2 separate regions of the Homo sapiens genome follow, and region 2 is linked to region 1. Evidence: fine-mapped expression QTL. A gene starts in region 1. The other region holds a variant in brackets. All regions are shown on one strand. Distances are from middle to middle. Region 1 holds the start of SLC25A53 (solute carrier family 25 member 53). Region 2 holds the start of ZCCHC18 (zinc finger CCHC-type containing 18).

Region 1 (9,977 bases):
GAATTCTGGAGTAATCGCGTTTGCTGCTTTGACACCCATAGCCCAAAATTCTCCTTCACAACCATCTGTCCACTCTCAGGGTCCCTGAGATACTGAATGTTCATGCAACAAAATTAAATCATTACTACTCAGGCATCATTTAGGAAATGGAGCTACAGAGTTCAAACTTACATAAGTTTGTTTTATCTCCTCACATTTCACGGAAAATAACACTACCTGTAAGACTAGGTGTGGATTTAGACAGATGAGGACTACTGTGGAGGTGCAGGGTAAGTGCACAAGCATTAAGTGAGAGGCTCACCAATCACGTGCAAAAGTTGATTAATTTTCAGGAGTCATATGTGGTTGTCTCGCTGACTCCTTTGGAATATGGACATGATAGAGAACAGATTTCTTTTCTGTTTTTTTTGTTTCGTGTTGTTTTTTATTATACTTTAAGTTTTAGGGTACATGTGCACAACGTGCAGGTTTGTTACATATGTATACATGTGCCATGTTGGTGTGCTGCACCCATTAACTCGTCATTTAGCATTAGGTATATCTCCTAATGCTATCCCTCCCCCCTCCCCCCACCCCATGACAGGCTCTGGTGTGTGATGTTCCCCTTCCTGTGTCCATATGTTCTCAATGTTCAATTCCCACCTGTGAGTGAGAACATGCGGTGTTTGGTTTTTTGTCCTTGCAATAGTTTGCTGAGAATGATGGTTTCCAGCTTCATCCATGTCCCTACAAAGGACATGAACTCATCATTTTTTATGGCTGCATAGTATTCCATGGTGTATATGTGCCACATTTTCTTGGTTCGCTCTTGCCGCCCAGGCTGGAGTACAATGGCGCGATCTCGGCTCACTGCAACCTCTGCCTCCCAGGTTCAAGCGATTCTCCTGCCTCAGCCTCCTGAGTACCTGGGATTACAGGCACCTGCCACCACGTCCAGCTAATTTTTGTATTTTTAGTAGAGACAGGGTTTCACCATGTTGACCAGGCTGGTCTTGAACTCCTGACCTCAGGTGATCCACCTGCCTCGGCCTCCTAAAGTGCTGGGATTACAGGCGTGAGCCACCGCGCCCAGCCTGAGAACAGATTTCTGAAACATCCAAGGCACTGGCCATTCTAGCACCTTGCTGGCCCCTACAAAGACTCACAATAGACTCAGGCCAGTTTGTATGGACTTTTTGGTTGTCTTTTTATGTGTGTCTGAGTGTTTGGTTTGGGGTTTCATTTATTTTGTTTTGTAACTGGCCTAGCGAGATTTGGGATGAAGCATTGACAAGAGTCTAGAATGATTAGTGAAATTTCTGAAAATGTGTCCTAGCCTTTTTCAGGGTCATGGGAGGGGGTTTGAACGGGAGGTATAACTGTGGACTGCCACCCTCCAGGAGTCTGTTTAGGGCCACCCCCTAAAGGAAGGCTTCAAATTAAGCTGTAACAAAATGAGATTTCTGATTCTGTGTTCTAGAGTAAATAAAATGATTTCAGTCACACCTTGCATAGCAACAGGAATATATTCTGAGAAATCCATCGTTAGGCAATTTCATTGTGAGAACATCATAGACTGTACTTACACAAACCTAGAGTGTGTGTATATATATATATATATTTTTTTTTTCTCATATGGAAAACAAAATGTTCCAGTACCAATAATGAACATCAATCATTACCGCAACTGATCTGCAATGCCAATATCAAGTGCTGTATATCAGGTTTCTATATATGCTCCATTATAATCTTCTGGGACTACCATAATATATGTGGTCCATCGTTGACCAAAATGCCACTATGCAGTGAATAACTGTATTTCTTCTAAAGGGAGAGTTTTATTGGTGGGGGTGGAACTACCTACCAATTCTGACTTCTTATACTAATCTTTGTCTGTCAATTAGCTTGTCACATTGTCTTTTTAATTTTTAACCTCAAACATAATTTATTACCAGAAATTAGGAACACTTCATTTTTCGTTGTTGATACAGTGGAGGTGTGAACTCCACTGTAAACAACTACTTGAATATATAAAAATCAGCAAGGGATTTGAATAGAAAACTGCTACTTTGTGTTTTTAAACAATTTATGGTATAAGTCACTGTGACAAGTACAATGGAGAAAAACAATTTGCTTTGTTTAGTTCAGGAAGATGACCTTTGCTCGACCATCCAAAACATACAAACAACAAAAACACATCCATTTTATTAAAGACTTAAATATATGACCTGAGACCATAACACTACAAGAAGAAAACCTAGGGAAGAAACTACAGGACACTGGTCTGGGCAATGAATTTTGGGGTTTGACCCCAAAAGCTCAAATAACAAAAGCAAAACTAGACAAATGGAATTACATCGAACTAAAATGTTTCCGCACAGCAAAGAAAACAATTAACAGAGGGGAGAGACAGCCTACAGATTGGGAGAAAATATTTGCAAGCCCTACTTCTAATAAGGTGTTAATGTCCAAAATATATAAGGGACTCAAATGACTAAGTAGCAAAAAGACAACCTGATTAACAAATGGACAAAGGACCCGAATAGACATTTCTCAAATGAAGACACACAAATGGCCAACAGGCATAAGAAAAAATGCTCAACATCACTAATCGCTAGGGACATGCAAATTAAAATCACAATGATATATTATCTCACACCTTCCAGAATGGCTATTATCAAAAAGGTGAAAGATAACAGGCCAGGATATGGAGAAAAGGCAACCCTATACATTGTTGGTGGGAATATAAATTAGTACAGCCATTATGGAAAACTGTATGGAGGTTCCTCAAAAAACTAAAAATAGAATTACTATATGATCCAGCAATCCCACTTCTGGGTATATATCCAAAGAATTTGAAATCAGTATGTCGAAGAGATATCTGTACTCTTATGTTCATTGCAGGATTTATCACAATAGCCAAGTTATGGGATCAACCTAAGTGTCCATCAGTGGATGAACAGATAAAGCAAATGTGCTATACATACACAATGAAATATTATTCAGTCTTCAAAAATCAGGAAAATCTGTCCATTGATGAGCCTGGAGAACATTATGCTAAGTGAAATAAGCCAGGCACAGAAAGACAAATACTTCATGTTCTCACTTGTATGTGGAATCTAAAACAATGGAACCCACAAACACAGAGAATAGAATGGTGGTGATATTTCAAAATTTCATATTCCAAAAGAGCTAAGAGTACATTTCAAATGTTAGCACCACAAAAAAACTATTAAATTCCATGTTGAGTCATTTTTGTGTAAAAAAAGATAAAATTTTAGGTGATGAATATGTTATTTACCTTGATTTAATCATTCTACATTGTATATATATAAAATACCACTTTGAACTCTATAAATGTATACAATTTGTAAATATACAATAAAATTATACAAATATAAAAATAAAAAGATTTTCTAAGCAGTGTCAAATAAGTCCATTTTATTTCATATCTACTGTGTCTGAATTCAGACATGCCTGACGTTTAGGAGTGTGCCTAGCCTTCCCTAGGGGAGATATTCTTTTTTTTTTTTTGAGACAGAGTCTCACTCTGTTGCCCAGGCTGGAGTGCAGTGGCGCAATCTTGGCTCACTGCAACCTCTGCCTCCCGGGTTCTAAGAGATTCCAGGAGATATTCTTTCCAATTTATTGTCAGCTCCGTTTAGACCTATAGTTCTCCAAGTATGGCCCCATGTCCAGGAGTATCAGCATCTCCTGGGAACTAGTTAGAAATGTAAATTCGGGGGTCCACTCCTGACCAACTGTAGGGGCAACTCTGTGGATGGGACCTAGCAATCTTGGTTTTAAGAAACGCTCCATCTGATTCTGATTCACAGGAAAGTTTGAGAGCCACTGACTTAGACTGCTATACTGTTGTTTCTCTGGTAAACAAAGAGGCTTCTTTTCTTGTTCAGAGAAATATTGCTTAGGATTTCTGGTGGGTGCACAATTCCCTGCTGTGAACCGAGTTTGCTGGAAAACCAAGTAACTAGCACCTCCATCGTAGTCCTACCCAGAGCTTGCAGGCTTTGCACTCACGTAAGACTGATTCTTCCAGAGGCGCCTGGAAGTCCCATTGTGATGGGCAAATGCTCTTACCAGAAATAAACTAGTTGTGGGGACCGGGCGCGGTGGCTCATGCCTGTAATACCAGCACTTTGGGAGGCCGAGGCAGGCGGATCACTTGAGGTCAGGAGTTCGAGGCCAACCTGGCCAACATGGTAAAACCCCGTCTCTACTAAAAATATAAAAATATAAAAATTAGCCGGGAGTGGTGGTGGGTGCCTCTAATCCCAGCAACCCGGGAGGCTGAGGCAGGAGAATCACTTGAACCCGGCAGACGGAGGTTGCAGTGAGCGGAGATCACGCCACTGCATTCCAGCCTGGGCGACAGAAGTAGAGAGACTCCTTATCAAAAAAAAAAAAAAGAAAGAAAGAAAGAAAAAAAAAAAGAAATACACTAATTTTGGGCCTTAAATGCTACTCAGTTCTCCAGTTCACCTCAACAGGGAGGGAAGGTGCTTGGAGGAAAATTGCACTTCGTTTTTGCCCTGCTTATTTTGTCTTCAAAATATATGTTAAATCACCGCATCAAAGAGCCGTCCCAGATCTCAACTCCCAGATGAGTTCGGTGGCACCCAATAGATTTTCATAACACAGGATCTATCTCTGTCTCCTTGTATTGTAATAGCCTGTCTCCAAATGCAGATAGCAACCGGCAGGCTGTAAATGTCGAGGAAAAAGCCTAATTCCTTTCCTCATCCGGAGCCTCTAGTGCAGTACCCAGCACAGAGCAGGTACTTGGTATTTTGGTAAGGGAAATCAATCAACGCATCAATAGCAGAATCTGAAACCAGGGACCTAGATCTTTCCAATAAAATCATCCTGCTGAGATGTGACTCAGATGTACTGGTGCCCAGCAGACAACACGTTTTCGCCCTGATTTTATCCTCCATTCATCCGTCCGCCCCCTCCCCCATAGACCCCGCCTGTCCCCAGCTAAAAATAATGAGGGGATTCACACATCTCAGTGTCAACACACACAACACAGTTGACACGCCCCTTAATCCTACAGCTACGCCATCAATTCTCGCCGCCGGGTCCGTCCGCTTGTCAGTTTCCCCTACTCCTCATCCCCTCGCAACTTCTGATCCCCTATCACTTCCGTTCCCGTTTGCCTGCTAGGCTGGAAGCAGGATGTGTCTACGCCCTCAGCCCATAAGAAGTGCTACAAACCTCCGCCTCGCTCGCTGTCATGGCGGCGACCGACGGCCCCTTTCCTGTGGCCTCAGAAAGCAGCGACAGTCGCAGTCACCGGACCTTCGCCCATCCGCCGCCCTCACTTAAGCGACGCACAACGGAGCTCCCACAATCCTCTTTGCTTCCGCTCTCTTTATTTCCGCCTCCCCCGCCCCCGCCTCGACATTAACCGTTTCGCGACTACGTCAGTTGGCCGGTCTGTTTGGGAGAGCCAGGCGACTAATCTGGTATAGAGACCGAAAAACACAGGTAAAAAGACCTAAAAGACTTAGTCATCTATTGGAACATTTCCCCAGTTTGTTTGTAAGTTGGCTTGCAAGCTTATCAGTCATTCTCAAACAGGAGCTTAACTTACTTAGGTGAACAGTTCATGATGACGCCTTTAAGCTGCTAGACCAACCCAAACTCCGAATTTGCAGTTTCTGACCTTTCACCTTGAACCTGTGCCCTTTCTACCCTCTATTCTCCATCTCCTTTTGGTTCTTGTCTGACTCTTTAGCTGCATATGTAAAGAGCACAGACTTTGAAACCTGAGCTCCCGCGTTCGAATCCCCACTGTACCACTATCTAAACATGGCATCTTGGGCAAGTGATTCAAGCATGCTATTCCTTGGCTTTTTCATCTGTAGAATTGGTATAATAATAGTACTTACCTCCAGAGTTGCAGTAAAAATATTAAAATTTCACATGTGAGGAGCACCTAGAACATTGCCTATCATGAAGTTAAGCAGTATATTGAAATATAAATTATAATGATTGAATTTGATCTCACCTAAGACCTCTGGCTAATAAATAATAAATGATAATAATCATTTCACCTGGGATAGAGGGGATTGCCCTGTTCTCTCCAGGCTGAGGCTGTAATACCTGATTCTAGGGACTGCTGATATGGAAATTACTACCACTCTGGCTGGAGTCAGAAGAGTATATTAAAGAGTCTCTTTGTACTGTCCTAAAATAAGCAAAATCCAACGTTTGCAGTTCTATGGACCACGCACTATGATAAGTGCTTTAAACCCATTTTGTTGTTATTGCTTCATCCTCACAATAGCCCTTTGCTGGTTCTTAAGTGTATTACCCTTTCCTGTCCTCTTTGTCTGCTTAAAGCAGCTAAGAAAACTCAGATTAGTCAGATTGCATATAAATCAATAACTTGCCCACGGTCACAGAGCTAATAACAAATAGAGCCAAGACTTAAACTCAGATACATTCAGATGTGTCTTGGTATTTCTCAAATATCACTGAGAAAAAGGCCACCATAAATTCTTTTCAAGTGCTCTCTCTCCCCCAACTCCCCACCCCAAGAATTGCCTGAATGCCCATACAGAAAGACTAGGTTCTCTTCAGAAGCAGAAGGGCAGAACCCACTAAGGCAAAGATCTCTCCCTTGAAGGCTGGCAGCCAAGGAGGTGACTATAGTAGGAATTGGCATAACCAGCTCACTCATTGCCCTCCACTGTGCCACACAGGCCCCATTACTTCCTATAGTACTGAAGACCACTGGGGATAAAGGTACAGGGCCTTCACCTCATCCCACCGTTCTGTAAAGCTTGGATATTAGCAAAGATCTTGCTTATTTTAGGACAGTACAATGAGACTCTTTAATATACTCATCTGACTCCACCCAGAGTGGTAGTAGTAATTTCCATATCAGCAGTCCCTAGAGTCAGGAATTACTGCCTCAGCCTGGAGAGAACAAACCAATCCCCTCTGTCCCAGGTTAAAACAAAACAGGAATTCCCTCTGTTCCTTCAGAATGTACGGTACCCAGGATGTTGTTATTCTTGCTCCACACCTACCCACTCTCACTTCCCAACTTATCATCAGGCAGTCCACAATGGTTTTTTCAGGGGAAGGATTGGTGATGGTGAAGGGACTGAAGGAGAAGGTAAATCACCAGGTTTGCTGAAGGTAAATGAAGCACTGCCTTGTCCCTACCTCTGTACCTCTTTTGTAGCTCCCTGACCTTCTTTCTCATTTGGCATTTCAGAACCCATCACTCCACACCTAGGAAACCCTCTTGGGTTTGAATTGCAGACAAATCATCTTGTCTTTTATTTTTTCCCCCAACACCCAACGATAGCACACATGTCTGGGCTTGGCCAAATTTAAAAACAAAAATAACAGAGGTAGCACGGAAAGACTTTTTACTTAATTTTCTCCATTATTTCTAGCTGTCAAACTATTAGAAAGTGTCAGTGTAAGGGGTAGAGCTGTGAGAAGTCGAGTTTCAGAGGCGAGGAAAGAGAAAAATCCTGATGCAAAGCAAAAGTGTTGGCAGAGGAAAGACGAGCCAACAAGAGTGTCTCTAGGGCCGGTAGAAATAAACAAATGGTGGAGATTGGTGAGTGGGTTTCATACACAAAGAAACCTTTCCCTTTTAGCTCCTTTCACCCTACACACCATATCCCCATTCCAGAGACTTCATCTGCCTTAAATTCTCCTAACCAACCCAGTTCTTTCCTTGCTGGGCATCTTGCCCTAATGGCAGAATTCACCACCAGCTGCTACTGCTAAGCAAACTGGGTAGTTGAGGGGAGAGGATGTTCGTAAACCCAATGTTAGAAAGGGAGATGTGTTCCTAGCATCCTTAGTCGTACTCATAGCATATTTTTAGAAGCAATGCTCTACGTACATAATTTAAGTGTTCAGGTTCTGCAGTGCTTTCTTCAGTATGTTTCAGTTATTTGTTTCTTCAGAGCTGTTCTGGGGTCCTAACATATATATGACAGTGTTTCTATACCATAGTGTTTTACACAGCTGGTGACCAGTTCAGGCCCCCTTTACAAGGCAGATAGATCCATCCCCCAGCTGCTGTGGGTATTAGCTGATGAATACAGCTGCTTCCTTCTCTGCAGAATTGCACTCTGCAGAAGAGGTTCATTGCCTGGGAGATTTCTGTTTAATAACCCCAACCCCTACACACACAACCCTGCAGCCAAAAGCAATGACTAACTGATGATGAGAGTACAAGGGTACCTTGCCTCAAGGTTGACCAATTCTGTGGTGTAAATCCTACTCCAGAGCTCCTCCTGGGATTAGGCTAGAGCTTGTTTCCAGCGAGCTTAGGTTTTTTCCTCCAGCCATATCCTGCTTCTCTCACTCCGCTGCTGCTGAGAGCACTCGCTCTAAATCACTGGCCCAAGAATCATGCCCCACCTTAGGCTCTGCTTCTAGGGAACCCTAATACTCATCATGCTCAGCTCATGTTTGTCAGAGGATCATGTAAAGAAGTCCCTCTGTAGGCCCTCTGTTGTAGGCAGAGCCATCGTACCCATCTCTGGGGAAGTCAGGAGTGAGTTAAGATGTAACTGGATAAGACCTCTTAAGTCAAACTTGAACATCTGTCCTAACTCAGATTAAAATGAGATCTGGCCTATTCCTGAAATCTACTGTCTTGGTGACACCAGCAGACTACATTCTATCAAATTAGAAATGAAGATATATCTGTTTGTGCTTCATTGTGGAAAAATTATGTTTTTATTAAAAAGAGTTATGTGGCATTTGTTAAAATTTTAGTTAAGTCACAATTATTTTGTGATAGACACTGCTATAATAGCATGAATCTTAAATTTATCAGCTGTTGGTTGCTATATGTTTGTTGAGTGTAAACTCTGTGTTGTCAAAGATGATCAAAGAATGAGCCCAAGGTTAGATACCTGATAAGCATGCTCCGATTAGTCTAGAAGTGTTAAAAGAAAAAGAAACAACAACAGACCGGATTACCAGCTTGCAAATAATAAAAACATATCCTAATTTAATAATTCTTCTATGATTCAGAAGACATATTGGATCATCTTTACAAACTTCAATCATAATATTGTAAAAATGTACAAGTACTAGTTAAGAGTAATGTTCAGATTGAAAAAAATGTTCAGGTTGAAAATGACCAGATTGTTGAAATATATATTTGCAAGGATGAAAATTTCAAAACATCTAGCATCTCCTCCAAAGTATATATCCTATTATTTACATAGTAAATAATGTATAGTCACTGATTCTAATCTCACTTGACTAAATCCATTCCTCTAGCTACAATAAAAGAACCAAGATAATAATTTTCTTTAGGATTACCTATTTCTGAATATATTTTAATACATTCCTTTTGCTATGACCTCTTGTAATTGGTTCCTTTTATTATTTTTATTTACATGTATTATATATCATAATTTATTTTAATTCCTTTTTTGCTGTTTAGCAAAATATATGATCATCTTCCTCTCCAAAAAAATCAGATTATGGAGGGTCTTTTAAGTGGTTACTTTTGGTAACTAAAACAAACATTTTCTTAAGAAAATATCATTAAACCAAAAATTCATACTGATCTGAGAAATGTTGGTTGTTTCTGAAAAGCCCTTTCTACATTAGTCAAATAAATTACAATATTTGTAAGTCTCATGGAGTATTTTAGTTGTGTACAAGATTTTCATTAAAGCATAGGAAAGAATATCATAGCTACTTGCTTAACACACATATACATCAAAGAGGAGATATGACTTTCCTAACTTATCTGTAACAATGGCTAAACAAAGGTTTGGTAAGAGCAATTGAAGAATGGTGAATTACCCCATTCATTAAAATTTTTAAAGTACTTAAACATTAGACTGGATAGAATTTTACGGGGGAACAATATATCTTATGTTCTTTTTAAAAAGAAGAAGAAAGAGGCTGGGCGTGGTGGCTCACCCCTGTACAATTTGGGAGGCCGAGGTGGGCGGATCACGAGGTTAGGAGTTTGA
Region 2 (9,977 bases), 46 kb before region 1:
TGATATATAAGCACACCCTTAAGAAATTAAGAATTAATTAACTTTAAATTAAAAGAAAGGCAATCAGTTTTTCTGGACAGAGCCACCACTACAGTATTTTGCTGACACAGCAAATATTCCAATATTCAAAGGATTACGACTGAAAAACATGAAATAGAGGAGGGGAAGACTCCAAAACTTAATGCATCAACTTTCACGACATGAAACTGTGCATTTTATAAACTACTTGAATAATACATTGCTATTCTGTTTAAAAAAATCTGGCACTATCTTGTAGAGGCAGAAAGGCATTTAACAGTTGAAGTGCAATGCTTTCTCTAAAAGTTGGTATTAAATTTGGGGAGGGGGAATCTCCCCTCGCCTTTCTCTCCATAGATTCCTGCCCAAGTTGTAGCTGTTTCATGGCAACGCCCAGCCCCCCTCCAGCAAGTGAGGAAAGGAAAGAGCAGCTGCTTCTGGAAGTTCAGTGCCTAAAGGCTCAGCACCTGGCAACTTCTAAGCCTAACCTTTAAGACCTGTAGCTATATAATAGAGCAGGGTTTCTTAACCTCAGTGCTATTGACATTTTGGGCAGGATAATTTTTTATTCTTGGCGCCTGTCCTCTGCACTCGAGAATGTTCAGAGGCTCCCTGGCTTCGGCTCACTGCGTGCCAGTAGCACCAGTAGTGACTTACACAGTGTGATGACCAAAAATATCTTGAGACCTTGCCAAATGTCCCCTGGGAGGCAAAACTGCTCCCGGCTTAGAACCACTGTACTAGATAGAATAGGCAGTGCAAGGACCCCAAACTATTGCTCCTTACCCCAGAAAGGCCAGGAAGCAGATGGCTAGTATGAGAAGCAACTTGGAAGCCAGGACATATGAAGGAATTTTGGGATCTAAAGAAAAAAAATGAATGCTCAGTGCAGATCTGAGGGAGTTTGCCAGAGAGGAAAGAGGGGGTCCCTGGCTGACGAGACAGGGTGTGCAGAAGCCAGAGCTGCCACCTCAGGGAAAGGAACAGAGATGTGTGGGTGTGGGGCAGGAGGACAGGGGAGAGGCGGAGGGGCATGATGGCCAGGACGGAGGGCTTCCATCTACAGTGACAGGGACACAAAGCTTGGCAGGAACTGCAGACCCACAAGTTTCACACAGAACCCTGGGCTATGTGATGGGGGCATGAAGGTTGGGACTCTAATTAAGCTAGCAGGCCAATGGGGAACCAGAGAGTCCAAGCTGAGGTCCCCAGGGAGGAGTAGAAGCCACACACTGCAAGAAGCCCAATGCAGCCTTCCCGAGGCTGCCAGGCCAAGAATCCGCCTTGGTGTACTACTCCTTCCAAAATCACTCCCATCAGCTCTGCTCTTCCCTAGCCCCTTCTCCCTGCTCCATCCATCTCCCCACAATCCCATTCCTATCCCCACTGCTGCATCCATATCCCCACAATCTCATTCCTATCCCCACTGCTCCATCCATATCCCCACAATCTCATTGCTCCATCAATCTCCCCGCAATCCCATTCCTATCCCCATTGCTCCATCCATATCCCCACAATCTCATTCTATACCCCCTGCTCCATCCATATCCCCACAATCTCATTCCTATCTCCCTGCCCCATCCATATCCCCACGATCTCATTCTATCCCCCCTGCTCCATCCATATCCCACAGTCTCATTCATACCACCCTGCTCCATCCACATCCCCACAATCTCATTCATAACCCCACCCTGTTCCATCTATATCCCCACATTCTCATTTCTATCCCCTTTGCTCCATCCATTTTCTCACAATCTCACTTTACCACCACGCCCCTCCCCTGGAGCCACACTCACCTCTTGGTGGAGGCAGATGGAGGCTCAGCCTCCTGTACTCTGCCCATAACCACCTCCCCCTACCCCCACATTCCATGATGGCCTTGAGCCTCAGCCTCCTTTACCCTCATAGCCAGTACACTGGGAGGACCCCTCTGCCTCTGACCCTTTAGCTGAGAACTGAGCAGGAGTAAAAACTCAAGAGGCCCACTCTTTGCATCCCTTTGGGCCACCTCTGGCCCCTGGAAGCCCCACTTCCATTTCTCCAGAGCCAAAGGGGACTCCTCCCAGATACCCAGGCTGCTAAATCTACAGAAGCCCCCAACAGTCCTCAGCTCTCCTATCAAAGATCTTCTTTCCAAAGTCTTACCTTCACCTAAATAAGGACAGGTGGTGAAGTAAATATTTGTCCTTTCTTCTACCTCAGAGTGCAATAATGTTCCATTTCCTCCCTACCATTTATAAACATGTTCACTGACACCATGAGGCAGGATGATTTAGCAGAAAGAAAACTGGGCTAGGATTTGGCAGTGCAAGGACTCCCAACTATCGCACCTACCCCAGAAAGGCCAGGAAGCAGGTGGGGTAGTATGAGATACCAGCATTCTAAGTGAGTTTTATTATCAACTTGATGTGTGACCTTTAGAAATTCAGTGACATCTTGGAGCCTTACCCATCTGAGCTGTAAATGGAGCAGAAAGGGCAAAATAATTTTTAGTCATCTCCATACTGTATCTGTCAGAGGGGGGTGATATTGGGCATTCAGGTCAATAGTTGATAGAGGAATTGTACTTTTCAATCCCCAACTCCTTCTGCCATTTTTGTAAATCATTTTGGGGGAATAAAGGTGAACAATAATTGAGAAACATCTAACCTTAATATGTAATCCATTTTATAAATCCAATCCTTTCCATTTTATGGGAGGGGAGTTCGTGTTTCTCCCATGTATTTTCTGTTAAGATGCCAGGCTTTGGAAAGGGCAGACAGACCCGAGACTGAATTCTGCCTCTGCCACTTAGTTGTGTGACCTTGGAAAAGACATTTCATTCAGTCTCAGGTTCTTCAGCTACAAAACAGGGGTATTAAGATCCACCTCAAAACGTTGTGGCAGAGATTAATAACATAAAATGAGACAAAGTGGTTGAGAATCCATAACATGGTGGCCTTGATAAGAAGGATCAAAAAAAGATGCTTCTGGACTTCACTATCTGTCTCCACAGAACGCATGCTCCTTCTGGATGCTCTCGGGACAGCCATAACCAGATACAGGGGCATTTGGGAACAAATCTTCTGTTCCCAAGGGAGGCAGGGAAGCCCTTACTTCCACAAATAGGAAGGTGCAACATAAGCAATCTAGGAGAGCCTGGCCCCTTCACATGAATTCAAAGTATAGACCACAGAATGGACCTAGAGTTGGCCTTAAGCAGATATCACCTGTACCCTATGACCTGCCTCCTATGTTTACAGCCTAGTAAAATGAGCCCAGAGGATTCCAGACTCTCCCAGCCAGTCTAGTCCACATGGGTAGACTGTGTGACTGCCCCAGGATCCAGCCACAAATGAATGCATTTGTCTGTTCATTCAGGGCATCTCTCAGCCAGTCCTTTGGTCTGCTCACAAACATGTATTGATCATCCACTAAATCATTGTGGGTAAACCACCATAGAGCTAGAGTGAATAGAACTTGGTGCCTGCCCTCAAGTGCTTAGAAATCTAGTCAACTAGCTTGGGAGACAGGTCAACAGTGTGCTAAACTCTACAGAAAGACAAAATAAAGGGTACAGTAATGAAGGTGGAAGCAAAAAGACAACAGCAATTTATTCCACCTGAGAAGGGGCATATGACTCAATCCTTAATTGAGTAGAGTAGAATAGGCTGTTGTTAGGTAGGGGAGTGAGGGCAAGCATTCTAGGCTGAGGAAGTGGCCTAAGGCACATAGGCTTAAGAGTGTGAGTTGTGCATGGGGCTGGCCTACCCCATGTGGTGAGAAGGAAATAGAGCTGTGGTTGACAGAGAGAAGCCCATTTAAGATGAGGACCACATTTGTCTTCTCCGCTGCATTGTGTTGTAGGGCACAGAGATGGGCTCTGGATACAGGCAGCCCTGGGTTTGAATTTCACTCTGTCACTTCCTAGCTTTATAACCTTGGCCAAGTTTCATCATCTCGCTGATCCTCAGTATCCTTATATGTAAAATGATTGTCATGAAGGATGCATGAGACAAAGTATGGAAAGTGCTTAGCACAGCACCTGGTATATAAGTTGCTTCATAAGTTATATTAGCAGTTTCATTTTTTAAAAATGAGATAATAGGAATAAAGGCAAGATAACAATTAAATTGTTCTAAAGGCTGCAATTGGTCTAATGAACTGGGTTATCTACAGAATGCATTTTGGACTGCTTGTTTGGAAGGCAGCAAAGAAGAGTTTTCATGGGCTTTGGAGTTCGACATCCCTGGCCTGCAGTCTCAGTGCCTCCACTTACAAGTTGTGAAGCCTGACACAAGTTACTTAATGTCCCTGAAATTCAGTTTCCCTTTCTGCAAAATGGGATACAATAGCTGTCTCAACAGGGTTGATAAGAAGCTTAAAAGAGATAACAGACAGAAAGTTCCTGGCACAAAGGAGGCAGGCAGCCAAAGGCAGCTATTATTGTTTCAACTGAAAGCTTTATCTCCAAACCTTCAAGCTTTTAAGGTTTATTTGTTGAAATTAGAAAATGTGGTCTCATTAGAGGCATCAGTTGGAACACACTCATACATGTGAGGCCATGTCCTGTATCCAATTGAAGCCAGGTTGCAAATACTACCCCCATCCCTGCATGAAGAGTCCCTCGCTTTGTTCTAGTAGCCCAACCCTGGCACCTTTACACAATCCATTTCCTGTCATTATTTTTGTCTGAGCTCTGACACCTATTCTTGGTCCTATGTGATTCCATCCCTACCAAGTCCAGCTGCAAATACCTAATTTGGTGATAAAGCCAATTTAAACACTGAACAAGACTCTTCTGGGAGGTAAGGGTCAGATGTCACGGGATGGGGGAGCAGAAGCAAAAGTCTGAAGGAAACCTAAGAGCAACTGCCAGCATCACCCCTAAGTGTGTGAGGTGAGCAACTTGCCTTCTCCATACATCCACACTTTCCAGCCTCCACCACCACTACCCCACTGTTCCATCCACAGACCATGATCCTGAGATGGAAGGTGCTTATCTCCAAATTTTTATTGTTTACTCCAAGGAACTCTAGATCTTGGGGTTGTAAATAAGAGGGCGGAAAGGAGCAAGTGAAGTACCTTGGCAGACTGAAGATGAAGCCAACAGCAGCGGAAGGGCATCAGACTGTTTACTTGCTTCTAAACATCAGGAGTCAAGAACAAGCCCCACAGAAGCCTCCTAGCCACACTATACATAAAGGAAGTAATACCTGCTCTCTAAGTCAGGGAAAAATGGAGCAGGTTTTCCAGCCACTGCCTTCATGGCCATTCACTTTGGACAGCCCTGCATGCCGTTTCCATGGAGTTGCTCCTTCTCTGGGGCCAGTGATGCCAAATCCAGCAAAGGAGAAGTACCCTGAAGAGCTCACAGAAGGGCAACCTAGCAACCTGTCCTTGAGCCAGGAAATGAAAGAGCCATATCAGCAACAGAGAGCTGTGGTTTGGGGGTTAGGTTAAATGGGGTTT[T/G]ATTTCTCACACTTCTTCATCAAGCATGGCTTGAAGAAGGAAGACGTTATGACAGACCCATTTGAAAATCTGCAAAGCTGTGGGCTCAGAAGAATGTACGGAGTCCAGATTCTTTGCATACAATTCCAGGAAGGACCTCGGGTAGGAACCTGTGCTCTGGAGTTACATTTCATGACAGATATGCCATGGACAGATACACTGATGGCAGGCCCATTTACTTATAACCTTCAGCATCACGTGGTGGTGTTTAGAAAAGTGGTTCATGAATCTCTCTACACCTCAGAATCAACTACAGGGCTGGTTAAAACTACAAATCACACTCTTCACCCCTAGTCCTACTACATCAAAATCCCCCAGGGGTAAGGCCCAATAATCTACATTTATAACAAGCTCTCCAAAATGATTCTGAGGCAGCTCACCTTGTACTCACACTTTGGTTAATAGCATGAGTTCTGGATTCAGAGACTCAGTTCAAATTTTGGCTTCACCTTGTATTTTCAGACAAATCATTTTACCTCTCTGAGCCTGGCCTCTTTGGGGTCACAAAGGGCTGTCGAAATTATGTTGCTTTTATAAAACAGGCAGCTTGTTGTGTAAAAAGAAAAAAAAAGAAGAAAAGAAAAAAAGATTAATAAAAAAAATGAAAGAAAGAAAAGTACCAAGAAGAGTTTCCTCTTCTGTACAATGGGCACCATAAAGGTTGCCCTCATCTTCCCTCAGCCCTCTCCCCACTACCTCCTCACCCCCTCCCTCAGCACTATTATCACATTGAGACTGCTGTTGAGATGGTTTGAGACTACCTGTGCAAAAATACTCTCCAGGCAGCGCTGCAGGGCAACGAATTAGCATCTAGAGAGCAACAGACGGTGCTAGGTTGGATGCTGTAACTTATTTGCTGCAGGATACAGGCCAAAACTAGTAACCTGTCTCTCTCTGGCTCAGTTTCTTCATCTGTGAAATGGAGATAATGGTTCTTGCTCACCAATTCTATGCAATCCCAAGTTGGTCCTCCCATCTGGCTTTGGTTTTTCTCCACTATCCCTTAATCTGACAGAATAGAGGAGTGCTGGCAAGGGGCAGCCTTTGAAGTCAGACATGGTGACTTGGGTGTGAGCTCTTAACTCTGCACTTCCTAACTGTACTGCCTGGGTGCTTCAGTCCTTTCCTGTTAAATGGGCACACTACTACCTCCTTCACACGGCTGCTGAGAAGAGGAAAGGAGATGTCCATGCAGGCGCCTCTGCACACAGAAAGCACTCAGTAAACGCTGTTTCCCCGCTTCCCCCTATACAAAGGTGAGGAACTCTCATTGTTCACTTGGTTTCTGTCCCACCTCGTGTTTAAGGTATCCGGTCTAAAAGCCCGGAGGAGAGCCGAGGTGTAAGGGGATAGGGAGAAGGGAAGAGATGGGTTAGCAGCAAACTCACGGATGAAAGGGAAATGGGCCCAGTCCGTGCGTCCGAGCTGCTGACGCCGTGCCGCCTCCCGCGCCTGTCTGCCGCAGCCCCCGCCCGCCGGCCCGCCGGCCAGCCGGCCCGCTCCCCCTTCTTGCTAGCAGTAGCTTCGGGGCCGGAGGCTGTGCGGCGAGGCCGCCCCCTCGCCCCGCTGATTGGCCGCGTCGCCCGGCCCGTCACGCTCTTTTGTCTCAGTCGCCAGAGACTGAAAGCAACCGCGGCTGCCCGGAGGGCCGAACTGGAGGGTGGGCGCAGCCTTGGCTGCCTTGGGAACCGTGCTGCCTCGACTCGGCTACCCCTCGCTGGGCGGTCGTGCGCACTCGCTAGGTCGGGCAGCCCCGGGTCGCTTAGCGGCCGAGGAGGCGGCAGAGATCCCGTTCCCCTGCAGAGCTACGGGGACCGGAAGGCGAAACAGAGCTGTGGACGCGGGAGCACATGCTGCCCACCAGTGGAGCACAAGTAAAGAAAGAACGCGCGATTGCCCGGCGCGGAGAGGGGTGGGGGAAGCCCCGCCAGGACTGGGCGGCGCCCGGCTTGGAGAATCAGTAACTGCGAGGCAGGGGATGGAGCACTCCCTTGGCCTGGTTGCGCTGAGGAAGGAGTTGTGGTTCATCTGGATGCTGCCGACTGGATAGGATTTAGGATTTGCCTGGATTAAGGTGGGTGGGGGTGTTGTCGTAGGTCGGGGGTGTTGTTGGGTGTCGGGGGCGGGGTGTGTTCGGGGAGGTGGCAAGGGGCGGGAGGAGACGATCGCAAGCTGTCTTGAACCCCTTTTGCATCTCCTCATCTCTTCCTGGGAAGGAATATGAGGGTGGGAGGTTATCCAACTTCTAGTCTCTTTCTCCCTGGCAGGTCATCAAAGCCGAATCCGAACTTGAATTCTGTGCGGCGGATTGCAGAGCTGGTAGGGCGAGGGTCTCCCGGAGGAAATGTAAGGGGGATGCGCGGGAGGGCAGGAGGCACTTTGGCTTGCGTTCAGAAGATGGGAGAGGGAATTTTCCGCCTGGCGACAGTGGAGGCGGTGGAGGGGAGGTATCAGGTTTTCAGATGAAGCTGCTTCCAACCCTTCCTTTCCCTCCTTCGCGGCACAGTCTTGAGGCCCTGAGGACTGGGATCTGCGACACCCAGTGGACAAAAGTCGGCCGTACCCCAGAGGCTAATTTTCTCACGGCAGGCACCTGTTGCAGAGGCTGCACGTAAAATAAAGGCGAACGCTAGTTTCCGAGCTCATGTAAGAATCTGAGAAATAACGGGGGAAACGTTGACAAGGGGGTGTGATTGAGACCTGAGGCCATGAGGTTAATGGTTTCTTATTATCATAAATCTGTGACACACAACCATTGAGTTCCGTTTTGAGGGCCCAGTATCAGCTCCCAACACTATGTCATCTAGAATTAGAAGCAACAGTTGTCGCCCCTCCTGGAGTACAGGCAGGAGGGGATGGATGTGGCTCTGAAAAACTACCTACTAGCCCAGGGACACCTGCTAGCTCTGGAATGTTGTAATTGCCAGTCTCCTGCAGGGTATTGTTAAGGCACTGGGCAGATATAAAATGCACTGCAAGGCTATTCAGGAAGATAGAGAATGCTACTGCAGACTGCTTCCCCACAGCCCACTATCTTATTAACCTTTTTTACTTTCCTTAGAATCCCTACTGAAATATAAGGCAGGCACAGCCCAGGAACGTTGCTTTGGAGAATCCTGCAGATAAGGCTTTTCCAAAAAGCGCGAGCATCTTGTTGTATTCAGATACCCTATCGTCGTCAGTCATGGCTAGCATCACTGCGTGTGTGGGTAACAGCAGGCAGCAGAATGCACCTTTGCCGCCTTGGGCCCATTCCATGTTGAGGTCTCTGGGGAGGAGTCTCTGTCCTTTAGTGGTCAAAATGGCAGAGAGAAACATGAAGTTGTTCTCAGGAAGAGTGGTGCCAGCCCAGGGGAAAGAAACCTTTGAAAACTGGCTGATCCAAGTCAATGAGGTCCTGCCAGATTGGAGTATGTCTGAGGAGGAAAAACTCAAGCGCTTGATGAAAACACTTAGGGGCCCTGCCCGGGAGGTCATGCGTTTGCTTCAGGCGGCCAACCCCAACCTAAGTGTAGCAGATTTCTTGCGGGCAATGAAATTGGTGTTTGGGGAGTCTGAAAGCAGTGTGACTGCCCATGGTAAATTTTTTAACACCCTGCAGGCACAAGGGGAGAAAGCCTCCCTTTATGTGATCCGTTTAGAGGTGCAGCTCCAGAATGCTATTCAGGCAGGCATCCTAGCTGAGAAAGATGCAAACCAGACTCGCTTGCAACAGCTTCTTTTAGGCGCTGAGCTGAATAGGGACCTGCGCTTCAGGCTTAAGCATCTTCTCAGGATGTATGCAAATAAGCAGGAGCGGCTTCCCAATTTCCTGGAGTTAATCAAGATGATAAGGGAGGAAGAGGATTGGGATGATGCTTTTATTAAACGGAAGCGGCCGAAAAGGTCTGAGCCAATAATGGAGAGGGCAGCCAGCCCTGTGGCATTTCAGGGCGCCCAGCCAATAGCAATCAGCAGTGCTGACTGTAACTGCAACGTGATAGAAATAGATGATACCCTTGATGACTCTGATGAGGATGTGATCCTGGTGGTGTCTCTGTACCCTTCACTGACACCTACAGGTGCCCCTCCCTTCAGAGGAAGAGCCAGACCTCTGGATCAAGTGCTGGTTATTGATTCCCCCAACAATTCTGGGGCTCAGTCTCTTTCTACCAGTGGTGGTTCTGGGTATAAGAATGATGGTCCTGGGAATATTCGTAGAGCCAGGAAGCGAAAATACACAACCCGCTGCTCATATTGTGGGGAGGAGGGCCACTCAAAAGAAACCTGTGACAATGAGAGCAACAAGGCCCAGGTTTTTGAGAATCTGATCATCACCCTGCAGGAGCTGACACATACAGAGGAGAGGTCAAAAGAGGTCCCTGGAGAACACAGTGATGCTTCTGAGCCACAGTAAGGATCTAGTCCAGCCCTAAATGAGTCCTTGACTGTATTCAGAGTCTGGTAATGGGAATAACAGGAGAGGGGGG

The links.
Region 2: its variant is fine-mapped to the expression of SLC25A53 in whole blood (TOPMed, PIP above 0.99). The same link has a PIP of 0.9 or more in T cells, blood mononuclear cells and lung.

The regions. Positions count from the first base shown.
Region 1 is chrX:104,151,664-104,161,640 of GRCh38, forward strand. SLC25A53 (solute carrier family 25 member 53) reads right to left here and starts at 5,346. Exons shown (of 2, transcript NM_001012755.5): 1 at 5,215-5,346. It also overlaps a transcript of FAM199X not described here. RefSeq lists an enhancer at 5,120-5,419.
Region 2 is chrX:104,105,420-104,115,396 of GRCh38, forward strand. The region is part of intron 1 of SLC25A53 (solute carrier family 25 member 53); the gene reads right to left. It overlaps ZCCHC18 (zinc finger CCHC-type containing 18), which reads left to right and starts at 7,104. Exons shown (of 3, transcript NM_001143978.3): 1 at 7,104-7,582; 2 at 7,776-7,827; 3 at 8,015-9,977. The coding sequence starts at 8,693. The coding sequence ends at 9,904. RefSeq lists an enhancer at 5,388-5,627 and a silencer at 6,825-7,054. The variant T/G (reference allele first, on the strand shown) is at 5,470.